Linked DNA regions of Homo sapiens: region 2 is linked to region 1. Evidence: fine-mapped expression QTL. A gene starts in region 1. The other region holds a variant in brackets. All regions are shown on one strand. Distances are between the middles of the regions. Region 1 holds the start of ARNT (aryl hydrocarbon receptor nuclear translocator). Region 2 has its middle 2.2 kb from the start of CTSS.

Region 1 (4,399 bases):
GGTGGAGGCTGCCGTGAGCAGTGATCTTGCCACTGCACTCCAGACTGGGCGACAGAGCAAGGAGCAAGACCCTGTAGCAAAAGAAAAAGAGGGGAGAGGGGACAGGAGAGAGGGGAGAGGAGAAAGGAAAACAAAGAAAAAGAAAAAGGAAATCTAAAAATTGCAGAAGCAAGCAGCCAAAGCATAGTAAACAAAGCTGTTTCATTAACAAGGATTCTGCACACACACATACACACTAACATATGCTATTTTCTGCTAAGATTTAAGCTGATATTGATCAGCTTATGAAAATATGGTCAAGAGGCTGTCATTCTGGTTGCTGTTGTTCAAAAAACAAAACAAAATAAAGCAACCCCACCCACACAGCTGGAAAAAAGCTTCTGACATATGAACTAAAACTTGTTTACCCAGGCCACTTCTTAATAAGAGAAATGCTTTGCAATTTAACTAGGGTTATATAAGTATTTTGCAATGTGTGATCAGTTAAAAATCTTGTTTATTTATTCCATAGTTCACAGATAGGTTATATTACTACAAGGTCAGGTTTGACATAACGGCATTTTTCCTGTTTTATAGTTTTATTCTATCACTCAGCACTTCCTGCAATGTAATTTTTGCGATTAATTTTACCTCCCTTTCCTTCAAAAAAAATTTAAAAGATTAAAAAAAAATGACGTGACAAATTAACCATTTCTTAAAATAGCTATTCCCAGAAACACGGTAGAAAAGAAATTTCAGTGATTCAACTGTCCTATCAAAATCTGGATATTGCAAAATCATACTGCCTTTCAGTAACATGAAAAAAAATCTAATTTAAATTTCAACGTGGGGATGGGGGTAATCACTCCTACTGTTTTATTTTCAAGAAATTCTCCGCCCCACGCAACACACACACATATCTCAAGGCCCTTTTTAAGGCTATCAAATATATTGGTTTTTGGAAAAGGATAGACTTTATTTGGCAAGAATAACCAAGGTCTCCAAGATAAACTAGACCCCTAAAATGAAATGCCTTCTAAAGAGGAATAACTGTAACATAGAGGAAAGAGGGCTGGGACTAGTAATTTGAAGATCTGATCTCTCTAGAACTGCACTACACCCTACTCCATCTCTTAGACAAAACAGACCAAACCTTTTTGATATTTGATTATTTTTTGAAATTGAGAAATGGTGTGGAATCAAACTTTTCTGAAAGAGTTTGGAAATTGCCTCGACGTAGGCCTAACAAGATTTAAACCTGGGGCTGTGGAACTAAAGACCTGTCCGGAACCATAACCATTACACAAACCCCTGCCCTCAGCAGGCAAAGACCTACAGGCCCTCTTAACACAAGATCTAAGTTTCAAAGTATAGTCCGGGGACGGAGACGGGGACGGGGGTTGCGGGTGGGAGGTAACAGCCTAAAGAAACGTCGTATATATCAAAGAATGTCCATTTTTTATTTTTTAAATTAAAATCTAAACCTTTAAATGTTTGGAAGCAACGCCTCAACTAAAGAGCAGTGTGGTCCAGGGTTTATGAATCCAAACTACTCTTAAAGTAAACCGAGACACTCTGCCTACAGTTTTCGGCATCAAGCGGCTCCAGCGGGCAGAGGGTTAAAAGAGGACCACATCACAGACCAGACGCCGACCGAGGAGTGAGGGCGGGCCAGCCCCGCACTGGCTGCCGCTCCAACGGAGGTCAGGACAGGGAGCCCCCCTCAACTCCCACCTGCCCCCTCGCTCCCTTGGGTATACTCGAGTCTACCCAAGTCCCCGGGATCGGGCCCCTCCCCAGGTCACCGCTCCCCCACCGTCTCTCGCGGCCCCCGCCCCGCCCCGGCGCCTTCAGCTCCAGCTGCGTCCCCTCAGCCCTGGGTCTCCTTAGTTGTCAGCCCCTTCGGCCCCTCCCCTTTAGAGGCGCCCCAGTCCTCCGTCTCCTCACCGGGGTTGGCAGTAGTCGCCGCCATGGCCGCAGATGCCACCGCCGCCGCGCCACCCCCCCCCCCAGTGGGAGGAGCCGCCGCCACCGAACCGGGAGGGAGGGGAAAAGAAAGGCCACTCCCCAGAAGCGGCGCCTGACCGCCGCCTCCGCTACCGCGGAATCCAAGATGGCGGCTTCAGCAGCCCCCAGCATCCCAGCCCCTGCGGCGGGGAGACCCCGCCTATATAGTAGGCGGAGTCAACACACGGCCAGCCTCCTAAGAAAAATTGACCAATGAAAATGCCAAATCGTCCAAGGGCAGGGCTACTCACTGCGCCAGCCAGTCCAGTGAAGGGAGGGCGAGGAAGAAGTCCAGCTGTCTCCCTAATCTCGCCCTCCTTGCGTAAGAGGTCAATGACCGAGTAACGTCATTGAAATGCAATTAAAATGGGTATTTTAGGCTGGGCGCGGTGGCTCGCGTCTGTAATCCCAGCACTTTGGGAGGCCGAGGCGGCCGGATCACCTGTGGCCAGGGGTTCGAAACCAGCCTGGCCAACATGGCGAAACCCCGTCTCTACTAAAAATACAAAATTAGCCGGGCGTGGTGGCGCATGCCTGTAATCCCAGCTTCTTGGGAGGCTGAGGCAGGAGAATCGCTTGAACCTGGGAGGCAGAGGTTGCAGTGAGCCGAGATAGCGCCACTGCACGCCAGTCTGGGCAACAAGAGCGAAACTCCGTCTCAAAAAAAAAAAAAAGGATATTTTACTAAAAACCTTCGCTTGGTGGTGGATTCGTCTGAGTGGTTGCCGTGCAGACAATGTATCTTGTAAATCCTCTTTAGGTGCTAAAGAGCACCTAAACATCACATGGTGATTTGTAATCCTTTCCAGTTTTTTTCCTCTTTTAAGGACTTTTGTCCCTGGTGAAAAAGTTAAATGACTAACTTTTGAATGCCTGCTATGGAACCGGTAGTCTAAAAGGATCCAGGTGTTAACGGTTTGGTATGGGAGATATTGCCAGCCAAAATTGGAGGCAATAGATGAAGAAAGTAATTTGAGAATGGGTAACTTCTTTGGTCAGTGACAGGGACAGAGTGAGGAGTTTTGTTTGTCTGTTTTTGAGACAGAGTCTCTCTCTGTCGCCCAGGCTGGAGTGCAGTGGCGCAATCTCGGCTCACTGCAACCTCCACCTCCCCGGTTCAAGCAATTCCCCTGCCTCAGTCTCCTGAGTAGCTGGGATTACAGGCGCACGCCACACGCCTGGCTAATGTTTTTTGTATTTTTAGTAGAGATGGAGTTTCACGACGTTGGCCAGGCTGGTCTCGAACTCCTGACATCAGGCAATCTGCCCGCCTCGGTCTCACAAACTGTTGGGATTACAGGCGTGAGCCACCACACCTGGCCAGTGAGGAGTTTTTAATAGGGAATCAATAAGATGATGGCTGTGCAGATTTATTTTCTTTTTTCTTTATTTTTTTCTGAGACGGAGTCTTGCTCCATCACCCAGGCTGGAGTGCAGTGGTGCGATCTTGGCTCACTGCAACCTCTCCCTCCCGGGTTCAAGCAGTTATCCTGCCTCAGCCTCCTGAGTAGCTGGGATTACAGGCGCGCACCACCACGCCCGGCTAATTTTTGTTTCCTGGTAATAGGAAGCATTGAGCTATTCGAGGTAGGCACTGTCCAAAATGCTTTATATGTATTTACTCATTTAATCCTCACAACAACGATGAGGTAGGTTCTACTGCTATTTCCATTTTGCAATTAAGGAAACAGAAACAAAGAGGGTAAGCAAGGGACATCCAGCAGGTAAGTAATGTGGGAGGCAAACTAAAGGAGTCTGACACTGGAAACCTGTTCCACCCATCCCCCTATTTTAGCACTACAATTTTAGCACTACAAAGTACTTCCATTTTCATGTATCGCTCACAAAATGTTTAATACAAATTTAATTAAAATTTTAACAAAAATCCCATTATGCTATTGAACAGCTTTGCATTCTTAGAAGTTGTATATGTACTGCGCAGATTACATTGATCCACTTATTTAGTTTACTGCAAAGGTATTTTAACATAATTTACATATTATTGTTTACATCTGTTAAAATTTCATTTTTCTTTCATTTTGTTGTTATATTTATAAGTCACCAAAAAGAAAAAAATCATCCACCCAAAAGAAATACATTGGCTGGGCTGGGCGGGGTGGCTGTAATCCCAGCACTTTGGGAGGCCAAGGAGGGCGGATCACAAAGTCAGGTGTTCGAGACCAGCCTGGCCAACATGGTGAAACCCCATCTTTACTAAAAATACAAAAATTAGCCGGGCATGGTGCCGCGTGCCTGTAATCCCAGCTACTCCGGTGGCTGAGGCAGGAGAATCGCTTGAACCTGGGAGGCAGAGGTTGCAGTGAACCGAGGTGCCCCTGCACTCCAGCCTGGGCGACAGAGCAAGACTCCATCTCAAAAAAAAAAAAAAAAAAATGCTGTAGCTTCTTTACCA
Region 2 (4,399 bases), 110 kb before region 1:
AATTGGAACTTGTCACATGAGGTACTCAAAATGAGGAAGTGAACTTTCATTTCAGTTTCATTTAAAATCTAGCTAGTACAGTCACCTCTAGTCATTTCCCTATGGTCTTGGGGACAAAGTGGATACAGTAAGCCATCAAGAAGAGCCCTTGTCTGAGCCCAGTGGCTCATGCCTATAATCCCAGCACTTTGGGAGGCTGAGGCGGGAGGATCACTTGAGGCCAGGAGTTCAAGACCAGCCTAGGCAATATAGTGAGACCCTGTCTCTGCAAAAAAATTTTTTTTAATTAGCTGGGCATGGTGGTGCATGCTTGTAGTCCCAGCTGAGGGGGAGGGTGAGGTGGGAGAATTGCTTGAGTCTAGGAGGACAAGGCTGCAGTGAGCCATGATTATGCCACTGTGTTTCAGCCTGGATGACATATCAAGACCCTATCTCAAAAAAAAAATTAAATTGAATTTTAAAAACACCAACTTTTACATGGAAAACATTTAGTTATAAAGAGATTTAGATAAAGCTCCCCAAATCCCAGCTCCTTGTATGATTTCCTAGGAAAACCTGTCTTACTGCTTTTAACACAACTCATTCATGATCTGATATTGTCTGGTTCTCACTCAGCCATTCCTTCGTTCATCAAACTCAAAATGTCTTTATTAATATATACTATATGTATAGTTTAGTAATATGCGTGTGTGTGTGTGTGTGTGTGTGTATGTGTTAGTATATTCATGGAAAAAAGGATACACTCAAATATATCCAATTGAGAATGATTACCTGGGTGGGGTGGGAGCAAGACGAACTATCATCTTTTAAATTTGCATTTTCCTAATTACTAATGAGGTTGAGGATCTTTTCACACATTTATTGACCGTTTGAATTTTCTGTGAATTTCCTGTTCATCTTTTTTGCTCATTTTTCTATTGTATTGTTGCATTTTCTTAGTGATTTGTGGGAGGTGTGTGTGTGTGTGTGTGTTGTGTGTTTTCCGAGACGGAGTCGTGCTTTGTCTCCCATGCTGGAGTGCATTGGTGCGATCTTGGCTCACTGCAACATCCACCTCCCAGGTTCAAGCGATTCTCTGCCTCAGACTCCCAAGTAGCTGGGATTACAGGCACCTGCCAGCATGTCCAGCTAATTTTTGTATTTTTAGTAGAGACAGGGTTTCACCATCTTGGCCAGGCTGGTCTTGAACTCTTCACCTCGTGATCCACCCGCCTCAGCCTCCCAAAGTGCTGGGATTACAGGTGTGAGCCACCGTGCCCGGCCAAGGTGTATGTGTTTTAAAAATATATTCTGGCTTCTAATCTTTGACAGTTATATACCCTTAAAAACATCCTCCCTTAGTCTTCCACTTGTCTTTTATTTTATTTTTTCTTCCTTTGCATAAGCCTATGAAATTCCACTTGTCCTTTAGTCTTGTTTATAGTGAGTTTTTCTATATGAAATTTTTTTATGTTGAGGTAGAACATTTTATTCAGCTTTTCCGTATAATCAATCTATACTGTTTTTGTATAAGAAAATTTTCCTCATCCAAATGTAATAAAGATACACTCATCTTATTTTTATACTTTCAGAGAGTGTTTTATTTATCTTTTCTATGGCTACTGCTTTTAGGTGTTTAATTCACCTGGAATTTAGTTTTGTGTATGGTATGACGTAGGGAGCTTATTTTCTTTGTTTTCCAATTTTGATTCTACCTCTATTGTACACCAAATTCTCATACATAGATAGGTCAGTTTCTGAGCTCATGAAGCTGTTCTTTTTATCTTTTGCTACTTCAGTATCACACAGTTTTAATTAAAACAGCTTTGTAATATGTCTCCACGTATGGTAAGGCAAGTCATCTAGGCCACCCTATCTTTGTTCTTCTTTTTAAACATTGTCTTTGTATTTTGTACTTGTTAACTCTTCTTTATATGAATTTTTTGAATCAGTTTATCAAGTTCCCTGAAAAACTCTGTTGGAGTTTTTTGCTTTTTTCTTTTGGAGACAGGGTTTCATTCTGTCACCCAGGCTGGAGTGCAGTGATGCAATCATGGCTCACTGCAGCCTTGACCTCCTGGGCTCAAGTGATCCTCCC[G/A]CCTCAGCCTCTGGAGTGGCTGGGACTACAGGTGCACACCACCATGCCTGGCTGATTTTGTTTTTTGTTTTTTGTAGATAAGGGGTTTCACCATGTTGCCCAGGCTGGCCTCAAACTCCTGGGCTCAAGCAATCTGCCCACCTTGGCCTCCTGAAGTGCTGGGATTACAGGCATGAGCCCCCACATCTGGCTATTAGAGTTTTTATTTGAATATATGCATAAATTTAGGGAGAAGTAACATCATTATAATGTTGATTCATCTCAGCTGTAGTAGACATGTTTGTGTTTGTAGCCATACAGTTTTTTTTAAAAAGATACTGCTTATGGAAAATTTAAAACACATGTAAAAGTAAAAATAGTAGTAAAATGAGCTGCCGTGAAACCATTGTCTTGTTTCAACAATGATCAGTACATGGCCAATCTTATTTTATTTATATTCCCACTCTCACTACCTGAATTATATTAAATAAATTCTAGACATTCTGTCATTTCATACGTAAATGTCCCTGTGTGTGTCTTTAAAAGACAGAGACTATTAAACAAATATAATACCACAATACCATCATCACATCTAAAATAAATGAACAATAATTTTCTTTTTTTTTTTTTTCTGAGACAGAGTCTCACTCACTTGCCCAGGCTGGAGTGCAGTGGTGTGATCCCAGCTCACTGCAATCTCTGCCTGCCGAGTTCAAGCGATTCTCCTGCCTCAGCCTCCCAAGTGGCTGGGATTACAGGCATGTGCCATCACACCCAGCTAATTTTTGTATTTTTAGTAGAGATGGGGTTTCACCACATTGGCCAGGCTTGTCTCGAACTCCTGACCATAGGTAATCTGCCCACCTCAGCCTCCCTAAGTACTGGGTTTACAGGTGTGAGCCACTTTATTGTCATAAGAAATTAAGACAATAATTTCTTAATGTCATCAGACATCCTATCAATGTTCACATTTTCTGGACTGTCTTATACATTTTTTAATAGTTTGTTTGAATTGAGATTTAAATAAGCTCCATATATTGTGAAACCATTGAGTTATGTTTATATCATTATGAATTCATGGATTTAAACATATTTGATGTGTTTCAATCCATTCCAGTTTTATCCTTATTGATACTCATATTGTCTCATTTTTGGTCTGTAGGAATTTATTCAAACTGGCTCTTTGGTGCAGACAGAGTTTGTATATTTGGCATAATATTAGTACTCTTTAAAAGCTTCCTTTCTTTCTAATATGACAGGCTATTGCAGGTTTGTCTTGAACAATTCCTGCCCCAGACCTGGAATCAGCCATTTCTCCAAGGAGCTCTGGTTCCTTTTAGTGGAAACAATGTTTAAATACCATAATCTAGGAACTAGCAGTGTTTGGGATAGCAGATTGACCATTGTTGCTAAGCCTTTTCAGTAGCTAGAGCTAAGAAATATCTTTTTTAAAAAAATTAAATAAATCACAAGCTGACACTGATACTTCAAATTCAAATTCAAGACTATAGGGTTTACTCACCCCATCAATCTTATATCTGCACTTCTTTTCAAACATGCTTAAAAAATCTGGGTTCTCTAAAATATCAACTCAAGTACTTGTTTAATTTATCCTGTAAAATTGCAGAATAACAACAACAAGCCTACGCCAATAAGATTGTTAATGAAAACAAATTAGAGGTTTTAAAGTGGAGGGGGACAGGTTTTTCTCCATTAAGCCAAATGTCGCTAACGATGTAAGTCAATTACTGTGTTTTGAAGTCACCTGGAATAGTTCCCTGTATGGTTATGCTCCACCTCCATACACAGGTTTATTTGTTTCATTTCACTTCTTCCTTTTAGGGCTTGCTTTTTACACTTATGTAATTTCATTTTATAATTATGTAAAACATTTATGTGGATCCAAAGTGAAATCATCACAATGAGGTATATTCAAAGAACTCTAGCCTCTACTTTTGTCTGTTTTACACGATTTCCTTTTTTCCTTAATTGGTAATCATTTAAAAAATTTATGGTTTATCTTCCTATTTTTAGAAATATGCAAATATGCCTATATATTAATATTCTTTCATCTTAAGTGAACACTAACATATTACACATATTTTTCTCTATCTTGTTTTTTTCACTTAGCATTTTTTTTGTTTTAGTCAATCACTTAACATTTTATTAAGAAAAATTATTCAGGCGAAAGACATTAGCAGGTGTCCTTTCAGTGATGTGCTGGGTATTATTTAGTGGACCTTTACAGGAATTGTTTGATTCTTTTTAGAGTTAAGTTGTAAAAAACTGATAACTATGCAAATGATCCCTATACATGGCAATGCAAATAAATTTTGTATTGTA

The links. PIP is the estimated chance that this variant, and not a neighbour inherited with it, causes the effect.
Region 2: its variant is the best candidate, but not a certain one, in a credible set for the expression of ARNT in prefrontal cortex (GTEx, PIP 0.80).

The regions. Positions count from the first base shown.
Region 1 is chr1:150,874,617-150,879,015 of GRCh38, forward strand. ARNT (aryl hydrocarbon receptor nuclear translocator) reads right to left here and starts at 1,983. Exons shown (of 22, transcript NM_001668.4): 1 at 1,927-1,983. The coding sequence starts at 1,951. It also overlaps a transcript of LOC107985204 not described here. RefSeq lists enhancers at 1-48, 49-548 and silencers at 1,609-2,038, 2,042-2,315.
Region 2 is chr1:150,765,805-150,770,203 of GRCh38, forward strand. No RefSeq gene overlaps it. Among named protein-coding and RNA genes, the nearest start is that of CTSS, 2.2 kb to the left of the region's middle. The variant G/A (reference allele first, on the strand shown) is at 2,078.